3 separate regions of the Homo sapiens genome follow, and all the other regions are linked to region 2. Evidence: fine-mapped expression QTL. A gene starts in region 2. Each other region holds a variant in brackets. All regions are shown on one strand. Distances are between the middles of the regions. Region 1 overlaps PDE6B (phosphodiesterase 6B). Region 2 holds the start of SLC49A3 (solute carrier family 49 member 3). Region 3 overlaps PDE6B (phosphodiesterase 6B).

What was found. PIP is the estimated chance that this variant, and not a neighbour inherited with it, causes the effect.
Region 1: its variant is the best candidate, but not a certain one, in a credible set for the expression of SLC49A3 in coronary artery (GTEx, PIP 0.81).
Region 3: its variant is the best candidate, but not a certain one, in a credible set for the expression of SLC49A3 in tibial nerve (GTEx, PIP 0.75).

Annotation. Positions count from the first base shown.
Region 1 is chr4:646,142-650,141 of GRCh38, forward strand. The region is part of intron 3 of PDE6B (phosphodiesterase 6B); the gene reads left to right. Among named protein-coding and RNA genes, the nearest start is that of PDE6B-AS1, 7.1 kb to the right of the region's middle. The variant A/G (reference allele first, on the strand shown) is at 1,811.
Region 2 is chr4:687,296-691,515 of GRCh38, forward strand. SLC49A3 (solute carrier family 49 member 3) reads right to left here and starts at 1,856. Exons shown (of 10, transcript NM_032219.4): 1 at 1,698-1,856. The coding sequence starts at 1,832. It overlaps LOC124900643 (a long non-coding RNA gene), which reads left to right. Exons shown (of 2, transcript XR_007057985.1): 2 at 177-724. RefSeq lists enhancers at 1-222, 1,171-2,119, 2,120-3,067, 2,843-2,892 and silencers at 1,643-1,812, 1,843-1,902.
Region 3 is chr4:665,320-669,319 of GRCh38, forward strand. PDE6B (phosphodiesterase 6B) reads left to right here. Exons shown (of 22, transcript NM_000283.4): 19 at 1-10; 20 at 1,212-1,295; 21 at 2,537-2,687. Among named protein-coding and RNA genes, the nearest start is that of ATP5ME, 7.0 kb to the right of the region's middle. The variant G/A (reference allele first, on the strand shown) is at 1,609.

The DNA.
Region 1 (4,000 bases), 41 kb before region 2:
CTTTGAACATTTTCTGCTGGGCAAGTCCACTGGTAACACATTCCTCAGTTTCTGTTTATCTGAGAAAGTCTTTATTTCTCCTTCACTTCTTAAGGATAATTTTACTGTATACAGAATTATAAGTTAGCACATTTTTTTCTCAACACTTCCAATACTTCACTCTCCTCTTGCTCGCATCGTTTCTGATGAGATGTTTCCAACGTCTCGTTCCACTCTTGGTCAGATGTTCCCCCACCCCCAGCTTCCCTCGAGGTTTTCAGCTTGGTTGTCTGCAGTTTGAATATGACGTGCCTTAGGATCAGTTTTTTGGCATTTGTCTTTTTTGACAGTCACTGAGCATCCTAGACGCGCGGTTTGGTGTCTGTCAATACTTTTGGAAAATCTCAGCCATTATTACTTCCAACATGTCTTCTCCTTCGCTCTTTCTGCTCCTTCCGGCACCCGCCGCCCACTCGCACCTTCTGTATTTGTCTCTCTGCTCCGCTCGCTCCGCTCGTGGTTCCCTCTGCGTTTCTGTGTTCGCGCTCCCGGCCCCCTTCCTCAGACACGCGCAGCCTCCGGCCGGGCGGCGGCGCACTGCGTTTCCACCTCGCATTTCCTGTACTCCAGCGCGCCTTGTCCTTCCCAGAGCGTCCATCTCTTTGCTTATGTTACCATCTGCTCCGGTGCGCTGCCTCCGTTTTCTAGTAGCGCCTTTAGCATATTGATCATCATAATTTTCCTTTTTTTTTTTTGAGACATTGTCTTGCTCTGTGGCCCTGGCTGGAGTGCAGTGGCTCAATCTCGGCTCACTGCAGCCGCCGCTTCCTGGGTTCCAGTGATTCTCCTGCCTCAGCCTCCTGAGTAGCTGGGATTACAGGTGCCCACCACCGCGGCCCGGCTAATTTTTGTATTTTTAGTAGAGATGAGTGTCACCATGTTGGCCAGGCTGGTCTTGAACTCCTGACTTCAGTTGAACTGCCCGCCTCAGCCTCCCAAAGCACTAGAATTACAGGCATGCGCCACCTCGCCTGGCCTGATCATAGTAATTTTAAATTCCCAGTCTGATAATTCCCAACTTCGTGTCACATCTGAGTCTGGTTCTGAGGCTTGCTTTGCCTTTTTGGACTGTTGCTTTTTCTTGCCTTTTAGCATGACTTATAATTTTTGGCCAAAGCAGGGACTGGGGCAAATCAGCCTTGAGTGTGGGATTTGGGGTCCATCTGGCCGGGAGCTGGGCTGTATTGAATGAACATTTGCTGCAGCTGAGGGTGACAGCAGCTTCCGCGCCCTTGTTTATGGTTTGTTTTTGCTTCTGTATTAGCTTGAGCTGCCATAACAAAATACCACACACCGAGCACCTGAGACAGTGGGCATTCGTTTCTGACACTTCTGGAGGCTGTGAAGTTCCAGATGAAGGTGCTGACCAGGTTCCATTTCTGGCGAGGGCTCTCTCCCTGGCTTGCTGTGTCCTCGTCCCATAAGGGCACGTCTCGTAGGGGCCCCAGGCTCGTGACCTCACCTAACCCTAATCATCCCCCAGGGCCCCACCTCCACTCACCATCGCATCTCGGGTGAGGGCTTCACAGATGCATGGGGGGAGGGGCACGCAATCTAGTACACAGCGGGAACCACCCAGCAACAGACCTCAGTTTTAAAAGTGTGGCTCTGGCCAGGTGTGATGGCTCATGCCTGTAATCCCAGCACTTTGGGAGGCTGAGGCGCGCAGATCACCTGAGGTCAGGAGTTCGAGACCAGCCTGGCCAAAATGGTGAAACCCCATCTCTAGTAAAAAATACAAAAAATTAGCTGGGCGTGGTGGTGCATGCCT[A/G]TAACCCCAGCTACTCAGGAGGCTGAGGCAGGAAAATTGCTTGAACCCGGGAGGCAGAGGTAGCAGTGAGCCAAGATCGCGCCACTGCACTTTAGCCTGGGCAACAAGAGCAAAACTCCATCTCGAAAAAAAAAAGAAAGAAAGAGCCAAGAGTCAGGCGTATTTGCCCGTTCTGTTGTCTGGTCACCCCAGCCCTAAACCAGGCAACAAGTGAATTACCAACACCTAGGAAACTCCTTGTTTCCAGCCTCTCAGTCTGCAGGCATGTGGAGACCAGCTCAAGGTTCTAACACGTGACCTTGTGTCTCCATGTGAGACTTTCGATTTTGCACCAGACATTGCCCAGTCCTAGGAAAAGCTGTTTCTGGGTCTTGCCCTCCGAACGGCATTTTTAGGCATCCTGACTTGCAGGAGGCACAGGCCTGCCTCACGGCTCTTTTTGAAAATAAAAGTTTGTGATGAGCAAAGATTGGCCCCCGCAGTCCGCCCAACGCCTGCACTTCGTCTGCCTCCTCCTTGAGCTGTGGAAGGAAAGCTGGTCACTGGGATTGAAGCAGCCTCTGGGCGCTCCCCCCTCCCTCTGTCCCGGGCCCTCACCTGGACAATCAGGAACTACCTTCTGTCCCAGGCACCCTCCAGCTGGAGGCCCCTGCCATTCCCTTTCTGAAAAGCCTCTCGGACACTCCCATCAGAGCCAACAGAGGCCGCAGGAAAGCCATGGGTTAGGCCCTACAGAGCTCAGGTTTCTCTCTGACCTGTCACGGCAGCTGCCTGTTCGGCTTAGTGGAGCAATTCTCACCGCCCAGCTGTCTGAGCTGCAGCAAAGCTGCATGAAAGGCCTGTGGGTGCAGGGCTGCAGCTCTCACCTTCAGGCCGGCCATGCGTCAGGACCCGGTGGCTCGCTGCAAGGGCGGAGGAGGTGCCCCGACTCAGGTCAGGCATGGGAGGAGCGGGGGAGCCTTCTGTCTCTGCAGGTCTGACTCCTGCCTCCTGTGAGGAAGCAGAGCCATTCAGAAGTGAGAGGCGGCCAGGAGGGGCGGGCGTGGTCTGTCCACACCGGGCAGTGGCGGGAGCCTGTTGAGCTGGCCAACTTCGGACTTAGGGCCCCACCATGATGAGCCAGATGGAGCTGTGGGGAGATCCACGCTGGCACAGCAGTCCGTCTGCCGTAGCGAAGCCCCGAGCACGGCCAACAGCGACCCACAGTGGGGCGGGGCGGGTGATCCTGGGTGTCTGTCGCCTTTCCTTTTAATACAGTGTTCTAGTTTATAGGTTACATGATTTAATTGACATAATGGCCATGATTGAATTGTCATAATGGCTATGTTTAATGGCTGGCTCTCAGAATGCCTGAGGATTCAACAACCAGCTCTGAGAAGCTCACCATGAGATGAAGCCCTCTGCCCTGATGCCAGGACACACACTAGATTTGTCAAGGCCCTGGGCCCAGGGGGAAACGTCTCCAGAAACAAGGCTCCTGGGGCTGGGGCTTCAGTAGGGCCGAGGCCCGTCCTAGCGACCAGGCCTCCAAGGGACGCTGGGGCCACCTGCTGCTGCTTTGAAAGTGAAGGAGCGCCATTCTTGGATTCCCCAGGCACTCGCTGGGGTCCCTTATGCTGACCACAGCCTGGGAAGACTGTTCACTGGTGGACCCACAAAGGCCTGGGAAGACTGTTCGCTGGTGGACCCACAGAGGCCTGGGAAGACTGTTCGCTGGTGGACCCACAAAGGCCTGGGGTTGGGACCGCGTAGGCCTGAGCGCTTGCCTCCCACCACAGCTATGGCCCAGGGCTCAGGGTCGGGGGGAGACTCTGGCCCTACTCCACTGGCTGGGCAGCCAGTGGGGATCCCATCTGCCCTGGCCCCTCAGGACCTCCTGGCCCCTCCTTCCCATAAGTAATGAGAGGGCCATGAGGCTGAGCAGCTCCCCTTCCAGGGCCATATGCGTCTCTGTGCCTTCTGCCCCCCATGTCAGTGGATCCCTCATTTCTGAGTACACGGGGTGGCCACCGCTGTCACCCTGGTTTCACCCTGGAGCATTAAACCTGACCCCAGTCAATGCAGGAGGGACACAACCTCAGCTTCCATGCAGCCCAGAAGCCCAGGCTGCTCGAACCATCCCCGGGGCCTTGTGGATGCAGCAGGTGTATCCTGTACCGGGGTGCTGGGACGCTGGGCACGGGCTTGGGG
Region 2 (4,220 bases):
CCGGGAGGCAGGAGGCCGTGTCACTCAAGGTCAACTTCCATGAGTCGACTGAGCTCCAGGCCACACCCTCGGACACAGCAGCCAGACCCAGGCTCCGCCCGGACAAGGTCTGACTCAGCCCACGGGACAGGACAGGGAGCTTGGGCAACAGCCGCCCTGTCTTCCTTTTTCTGCAGGACGGGGCCAGGCACAGAACGAGCTCCCCAGGCCCAGCTGGTGCCTGCCTGGCCGAGCCCGGGAGAGAAAGCCCACCCTGCGGAGCCGAGCCCGCCGCTCCAGCCTCAGCCCTGTCCTGGTTCCTCGGGGGCCTGAGTGGGGCCCACAGCTGACTCACTGAGAAGAGATGCGTCTGAAGCGTGCGGGGCAACGTGGGAGGACGATCTGTCTGACTCCCTTCCTCATCTCCCAGCCTCGACCCTGCCTGCGCTCGCCCCCTTGGGTCCTTTGAGTCTCATCCAGAGCACTGGGCTGCCTTCCGGGGTGGGTGTTGACCCAAGCTCTGCTCCGCCTGGCCCTCATGCTGCTGGTTGGAACCCGGGATCCCTGGTCACTGGCTGCAGATGAGTAACCTCCAGCCTCAAGGGCACTTGGCTGGAGTGAACATGGTGCTTACGGCTCACTGTGGTGACCCAGGCAGAGACCATGACGACTCTTGGTGTCAGGGTGAGATTTCTGTGTGCTCCATGATGACTCGTGGATATTAATAAAACAGTGAAGAACTGCAGCAGGAGGCCCTTGACTGTCCAAGGAACGCCCCACACCTACGACACCCACTGACTCTTGGACCATGAAACCAGCCCTGCACCCTCAGACACTCCACCCAAAGCCAGTTATGGCTTCCCCAGTGCCTGGACATGGTGGGCCAGGACGCCAAGCCACAGCAGTGAGTTACGGCTCGTGCCAGCATTGTGGGCAGCAGGCAGCCCCTGGGCCCATCCAGCAGATCCCGGGCCTGTCTCGGCCAGAGGCTGGCCCTCCATACCCAGCCAGCAAAGGAGGAGGGGAGAGGCCCCGGGGTCCACCTGGAAGAGCCCTGACCCAGGCCTGAGAGTGACTCCTGCCCCTGCCCCCGAGCTTCCTGACCATCCCCGTGACCTGGCGCCTCCCTGAGCTGTGGGTCCTGCTGCCAACTCTAGCTGTTCATTGCACGTTGGCCAGATACTGCCTGACCAGTTCCTGAGGCTCCGGGGGATGGCTGATGAGGGCACACAGGGCGGGAAAGGCTGCAGCGTGCAACACCTGAAGGGGGTGGGGGCAGGACGGAACCCAGCCCAGCCCAGGAGCCGCCCCTCACTCAGAGTCAGGTGGAGGGGAGGGCGGCTCCAAGCGCGCCTCTGCTGTGTGCCTGCTGTCCTGGGGCTGGGAGGCGTGGAAGGAGAGAGGGCCAACGCAGGGCCACCTGTATGTGACTGGCTGGGGAAGAGGGACCCAGGCTGGAGCCACTGAAGGCTGGGAAGGGCTGGGACTCCGTGACTGGCAGATCCCCCGGGGCACCCAGCCCTGCTCTGTGCCCTGGGCCCAGCCACCTCCAGGACAGACAGTGCCCCCAGTGCCCGCAATCCCTAGCCACCTCCAGAAGGCACCCCCCGCCCCCAGCCAGCACCTGGCACCTCGGGCTGTGGCCACAGGAAAACAAAACCCGGCTGGTCCGAGGGACTGAGGGTCCCGGAGCCACCTGTCCCCGCCCCTGCCCCTACCGTGGCGTTGGAGCAGTTGAGCAGGCTGATCGCGAGCAGGAACACCCAGCGGCGCGCGTAGGTGCGGTGGCCCCGCTGCGCGCACAGGGCCCGGGGCTCGGCCAACCCCGTCTCGGCCTCCGTCGGCCCCGCCATCGTCGGCGGCCTCCACGGGTCTCCGCCGGTCCCGCCGGCCGCCCGGGCTTAAGGACCTTCCCGCGTGGGCCGGGACCGCCTGCGGGCGGAGGTGGGGCCGGGCCGGGCCGGGCCACGGGGGGCCAGTTCCGCCCCAAGGACTACGGAGGAGGGTCCCGCCCCGTCCCAGTTAAAGGAGACCCAAAAAAGCGGGGGAAGGGCGGGCAAAGGTGAAGTTGGACCCTCCTCCTTCGGCCTCAGGCTGGAAGTCCCTGCCACAAAAACCGAATGTCCCTTCCGGGAAGGGCCCCGGTCACAGCCTGTGTGCTTCTCAGCAGGAAAGGCGGCCTGGAAGTCACTCTGCCCAGCAGAAGCTCTGCACTTCCTGAAGGGGGCTGTGGACCCCAAGTTCCTGAGGTTCAAGCCAGCCACAGGGAGGGGCCAGAGGCCAGCCTGGAAGAAGAGGCTGGGCTGGCTTTGCGCAGAGCCTCAAATCAGACCAGTCCCTCTACAGCCCCTGCGGGAAGCAGGCATGGGGTAGGAGGGCGAGGGGCTGCAGGCCAAGGCTGGAGGGAAGGCCAGAAAGGCCTGTGGGCCCCACCCTGGGGTAGGCAGTCCGCCACACACGCACCGGATTGTTACCTGCATTTTACAATGGAGGACACGGCTCTCAGAGGAGTAGGCACAGGTTTCTGTTTGTTTAGGATGGAGAGGCCTGTGTGTTGGAAGGCAGAGGAGGGAGTTTCGGCTTAGTCTTTTCTGCAAGAACCTGCTGATCCCACAACTGTGCCTGGCCCACCCTGGGGGAACCCAAGAGGCTCCAGGCCCTGTTGCTGAGGCCAGTATAGGGGTGGGGTGGAGGCTGGCCTGGTCAGACGTGCAAACAGGATTTCCCCCAAACAGGGAGGCTCTCTTGACCCTTGAAACCATCCCCGTTTCCTGAACAGTATTATTCGTGGTTTTTGTCTTAAACATTCATCTCCTTTGCCAGGGCCTGTCCATTTTCCACACCTGAGTCTGAACAGGCTAATGATGAGGCCCCAGCTTTCACTGTGCAGTCTTCTGCAGGGATTGTGTGTGTGTCTCAGATAGAGCTCTCCACTTTGGGATTTTTTTTTTTTTGTAGAGTCTCATCCAGTAACAAAGAGAAAATGGAGCTCACCCGGGGTGTCCTGAGATGGGTGGGCCCCAAGGGGGTTCCATTCTCTGAGACGTGTGATGGAGCCCTGTGGTCCTCACTCTCTTTATCTCCTCTGCCTTCCCCACCGTCTAGCCTCCCCCCTCATCTTTGTTCCCCATTCCCCCACCAGTTCCTTCTGTTCTCCTTCTCCTCACCTCTTGCTCGCCCTGCCCTGAGGACCCAGCCCCCTCACAACCTTCCTCCATAGTCCAGTGCCAATGTTGGCCTAGGGCCTTCAACATCCCCTAACCCCACCTGGCAGAGGGGGAGTTGCAGTGCAGGCTTCCCTGTTGAGGGACCTCACTATTGTGGAGCACTGCCTCTGACAGGTGGTGTCTGAGCCTGTCACCATGAAATGGGGCAGCCACAGTAGCTACCTCCATCGTTCAGTCTCTGTTGAGCGTGCATTGTCGAGGGGTGTCACCATGAAACGGGGCAGCCACTGTAGCTACCTCCATTGTTCAGTCTCTGTTGAGCGTGCATTGTTGAGGGGCTCCTCCTCCCTACATGTCGGAACTCTTGGGTTGAGCAGGTGAGCTCAGCAACATTGCAGAATGCAAGATCAGCACACAACAATCGCTTGCATTGATGTATACCAACAAGAAACATGAAAACCAAAGTTAAAGACATTCATAATTACTCCAAGGAAAATTAAATACTTTGGTATAAACTTAGCAAACCATCTACAGAACTTGCATGCTAAAAATTACAAACCATGGGCCGGGTGCGGTGGCTCACGCCTGTAATCCCAGCACTTTGGGAGGCCAAGGCAGGTGGATCACAAGGTCAGGAGTTCAAGACCAGCCTGGCCAACATGGTGAAACCCAGTCTCTAGTAAAAATACAAAAATTAGCCAGGTGTGGTGACATGCACCTGTAGTCCCAGCTATTTGGGAGGCTGAGGTAAGAGAATCTCGAACCCGGGAAGCAGAGGTTGCAGTGAGCTGAGATCATGCCACTGCACTCCAGCCTGGGCAACAGAGTGAGACTCTGTCTCAAAAAAAAAAAAAAAAAATTACAAACCATGGCTGGGCGAGGTAGCTCACATCTATAATCCCAGCACTTTGGGAGGCCGAGGTGGGTGGATTACCTGAGGTCGGGAGTTCAAGACCAGCCTGGCCAATATGGTGAAACCGTCTTCACTAAAAATGCAACAGATTAGCTGGGCATGGTGGTGCATGCCTGTAATCCCAGCTACTCAGGAGGCTATATAAGGTGGGAATTGATTAA
Region 3 (4,000 bases), 22 kb before region 2:
GCAGCCCATTGTGAGTGCTGCTTCTGGAACCTTCCACTCCTGAAACGGGTGTTAGAGACCCCTCTTGGTCCTCAGGAGCCTCAGGTCCTGGCTTGGTCTCAGGCAGGGGGTTCTGAGGTCGTGGGGTCCTTATCTCACTTTGTGGGATCATGTGACATGCGTGTGGGTGGCTCGGACCTGGGTACAGCTGTGGCTTGGGTGATGCTTATGCAGAGGTGACGTCGTTGGCACTGGAGGAACCAGGGCCACCCGCTCATCACCAGGAGCCTCTGGGTCCAGGCAGCTCTGCAGGTGAACCCCAGCAGGGCCGCGAGCCATGCACCAAGAAAGCCCTGGGGAGGGTGCTGGGGCAGAGAACGCATGGGGGGCGTCCCGGGCCCACACAGTGGTATGATGGACAATGCCAGGGTCCTCAGGTCAGCAGCGGGGTCTGGATACCTCCTGGCAGCAGGAGAGGTGCCAGCAAATGGGAGAGTCAGGATAGGCGCCAGGAACAGGAGAGGCAGGGCTGCCCCAGCCCCACGTGGACCAGGTGGGAGCTGTGGTTTCTCACACACCCGCTCTGGTGGGCGGCGAGGGGCTCTCTGGAGCCTGCAGTGGAGAGGGCTTAGGCCAGGTGCAGCCTCGGCAGGAAAGGGGGCATTGGTTGGTCAGCAAAGCCCCACAGGGGAAGGACAGGCAGCAGGTCCATCCCCCGCGCCCGGCCTCTAGAGTCCTGCATGGTTCACCCTCCACCAGGACGCTGTGAGGGGACGGACAGCCCAGGGCACTCGGGGTCTGACACTAGAAACAGCTCCAGAGCACGTCTGTGTCTGCCCCAGGCGAGTGCACAGCGAGGTCCTGGTCAGCCGAGTGTCTGGGCAGTGCAGCCCAGCCCGGCTCAGCACTGTGTACAGCCCATCCCCCTCCCCGCCTCTCCCCAGCTGCAGTAAGGGTCCCCAGAGCCAAGAGGGGGCTGCCCTCAGGGGACCACGGGCTGGAGCCAACAGCAGCTGTGGGAAGAAGCTGCCCACAGTTCCTAGGAGCTGTGGAGCCGCTGGCCAAGGGAGAGGGTGTCAGCTTCCCCTCCCGAGAGCCAGTTTCTGTCAGGCAGGCTCGTCCCAGGCTGTGTCTCCATGAGCACATCTGAGTGAGGGGGTCGGGGGGCTGGGCGGGGCCCCAGGAGCTGCCTCCCTGGTCACTGTTCTCCCGCCCTCTGTTCCTCCCACCAGCCTATGATGGACCGGAACAAGGCGGCCGAGCTCCCCAAGCTGCAAGTGGGCTTCATCGACTTCGTGTGCACATTCGTGTACAAGGCGAGTGGTTCACGGGTGTTCCGAGCTGACTGGGGCAGGGTGGCTGGGAGCAGGCAAGGGGGCGCGGGCTGGAGTCGCGTGGACTCACACGGGCCCGGCGGTGTCCTCACTGGAGTAGGGATGCCAGTGCCAGCTTCGTGCCGCTCTTGAGTGGGGCAAATGGGGAGGAACATCAGTTTCCGGACCCCCACAGGTGCCCCAGCCCATCCTCACCCTGCTGTGCCCCTGGAAGCTCTGAGCCCTTTCCCAGCCCAGAATGTCCTCTGCTAGCCTCCAGGCCTACCCCAGAAGTTCTCCCTCAGTGCCCTCCGCC[G/A]TGGCCAGCACACTGTTTTGGGGGCCTTGGCTGCAGCTCTGTGGGTTCATTTGTTCCATGTTTGTGAACCCTCGAGGCGGGGCTGGGTCGGCCTGTCTGCTGGTGCACCCGCCCACAGGGGCGTTTGGAACAGCAGAAGGAGCCACATCCCTGCCAATCTGCCACAGTCCGATGCCAGCTGAGTCTCTGAGGACGCAAGGCGGACATGGAGGGGGAGACTCGATGGGGCAGGGGTCTGACCGTGGGGCCCTGTGTGATGCCCATAAGAGCCAGCTGCCTCCGGCCACACTCCCTGGTGATGGAATCCACGCCCCAAGGAGGATGCCACGGGTTCCACATGAAGTTGTCCCGGAGTGGGCTGTGCCCACTCCCCGCCCCATCCTACCCACCCCGGGTCGTCAGTGCTGGGGAGAAGGTGGGACAAGGGTGGATATTTGGGCCTGAAGTGGCCACAGGTCACGGCCCCACTGCAGGTGCCCCCCACTGCCTTCCCCACCCCGCCACACTCCATGTGTGATGTGCGCGAGTGCACGCGTGTGCTGTGCTTGCATGATGTGTGCCGTGTGTGTGTGGGAGGGACGGGAGAAGGCACTGCAGGGGCTGCCTGCTGTCCGCCTGTGCCCACCACCCCTCTGCCTGGCACCCTGCCCCCACCCCCTGAGCTGTTCTGCTCATTCTTGGGTTCCTCTCCCTGCAACACTGCACCCTAAGCATGCATACCCTAAAGCTCCCGGCTTCAATGTCACCAACACAGCCCCCGAGGTTTCTCCCTTCACAGGGCTCTGCTGGGAAGGTGCCCCCTCCGTGGCGCTCCCTCCTCCTGCCAGGCAGTTCATCCCCTACGAGGGGGATGAGCTGGGGAAGGGCTATCTTACTCTGGAGAGAGCAGGCAGGACAGGACTGGTGGTGACTTCTCGACTCCCCTCAGGAGTTCTCTCGTTTCCACGAAGAGATCCTGCCCATGTTCGACCGACTGCAGAACAATAGGAAAGAGTGGAAGGCGCTGGCTGATGAGTATGAGGCCAAAGTGAAGGCTCTGGAGGAGAAGGAGGAGGAGGAGAGGGTGGCAGCCAAGAAAGGTCTGGCTCTGTGTGGCCTGTGGGGCAGGGACTCGGTGACTCTCCCAAGGCAAAATGAAAAGACAGGGCACAGAGCAGAGTTAAAATGGAGAAAAGCAGAGCCACTTTCAAGAAGCCTCGAGGTGGACAGGGCCACAGTGCAGGGAGAGAGGCCACGGCGGGGGAGAGTGGCAGCTGACTCCACCTCGGTAGCAAACCCGGACTGAAAAATTTCCTCTGTTCCTAGCCAGTGAACCCCATTTTTCAAGAAAGAAGTAACCATATCTTATGTCCTTTATAAAGGACTTAGTTGCAACAAGTCAGCACACCCCCAAGTTCAAATCCCAAAGGCATCGTGGTCTTGCCATTGGCCCGCACTTGGCTACCTTAGCTCTGAGGTTTGGCTTGCTATTCCCGCTGCTCCCAGTATCCCATGCTATTCCCGCTACCCCATGCTGCTCCCACTACCCCATGCTGCTCCCACTACCCCATGCTGCTCCCACTACCCCATGCTATTCCCCTACCCCATGCTAGTACCACTACCCCATGCTATTCCCGCTACCCCATGCTATTCCCCTACCCCATGCTAGTACCACTACCCCATGCTATTCCCGCTACCCCATGCTATTCCCCTACCCCATGCTATTCCCGCTACCCCATGCTGCTCCCACTACCCCACGCTATTCCCCTACCCCATGCTATTCCCGCTATGCCATGCTATTCCCCTACCCCATGCTATTCCTGCTATGCCATGCTATTCCCCTACCCCATGCTATTCCCCTACCCCATGCTGCTCCCACTACCCCACGCTATTCCCCTACCCCATGCTGCTCCCACTACCCCACGCTATTCCCCTACCCCATGCTATTCCCGCTATGCCATGCTATTCCCGCTACCCCATGCTATTCCCCTACCCCATGCTGCTCCCACTACCCCACGCTATTCCCCTACCCCATGCTGCTCCCACTACCCCACGCTATTCCCCTACCCCATGCTGCTCCCACTACCCCACGCTATTCCCCTACCCCATGCTATTCCCGCTATGCCATGCTATTCCCGCTACCCCATGCTATTCCCCTACCCCATGCTGCTCCCACTACCCCACGCTATTCCCCTACCCCATGCTGCTCCCACTACCCCACGCTATTCCCCTACCCCATGCTGCTCCCACTACCCCACGCTATTCCCCTACCCCATGCTATTCCCGCTATGCCATGCTATTCCCGCTACCCCATGCTATTCCCCTACCCTATGCTGCTCCCACTACCCCATGCTATTCCCACTACTCCATGCTGCTGCCACTACCCCATGCTAGTCCCACTACCCCATGCTAT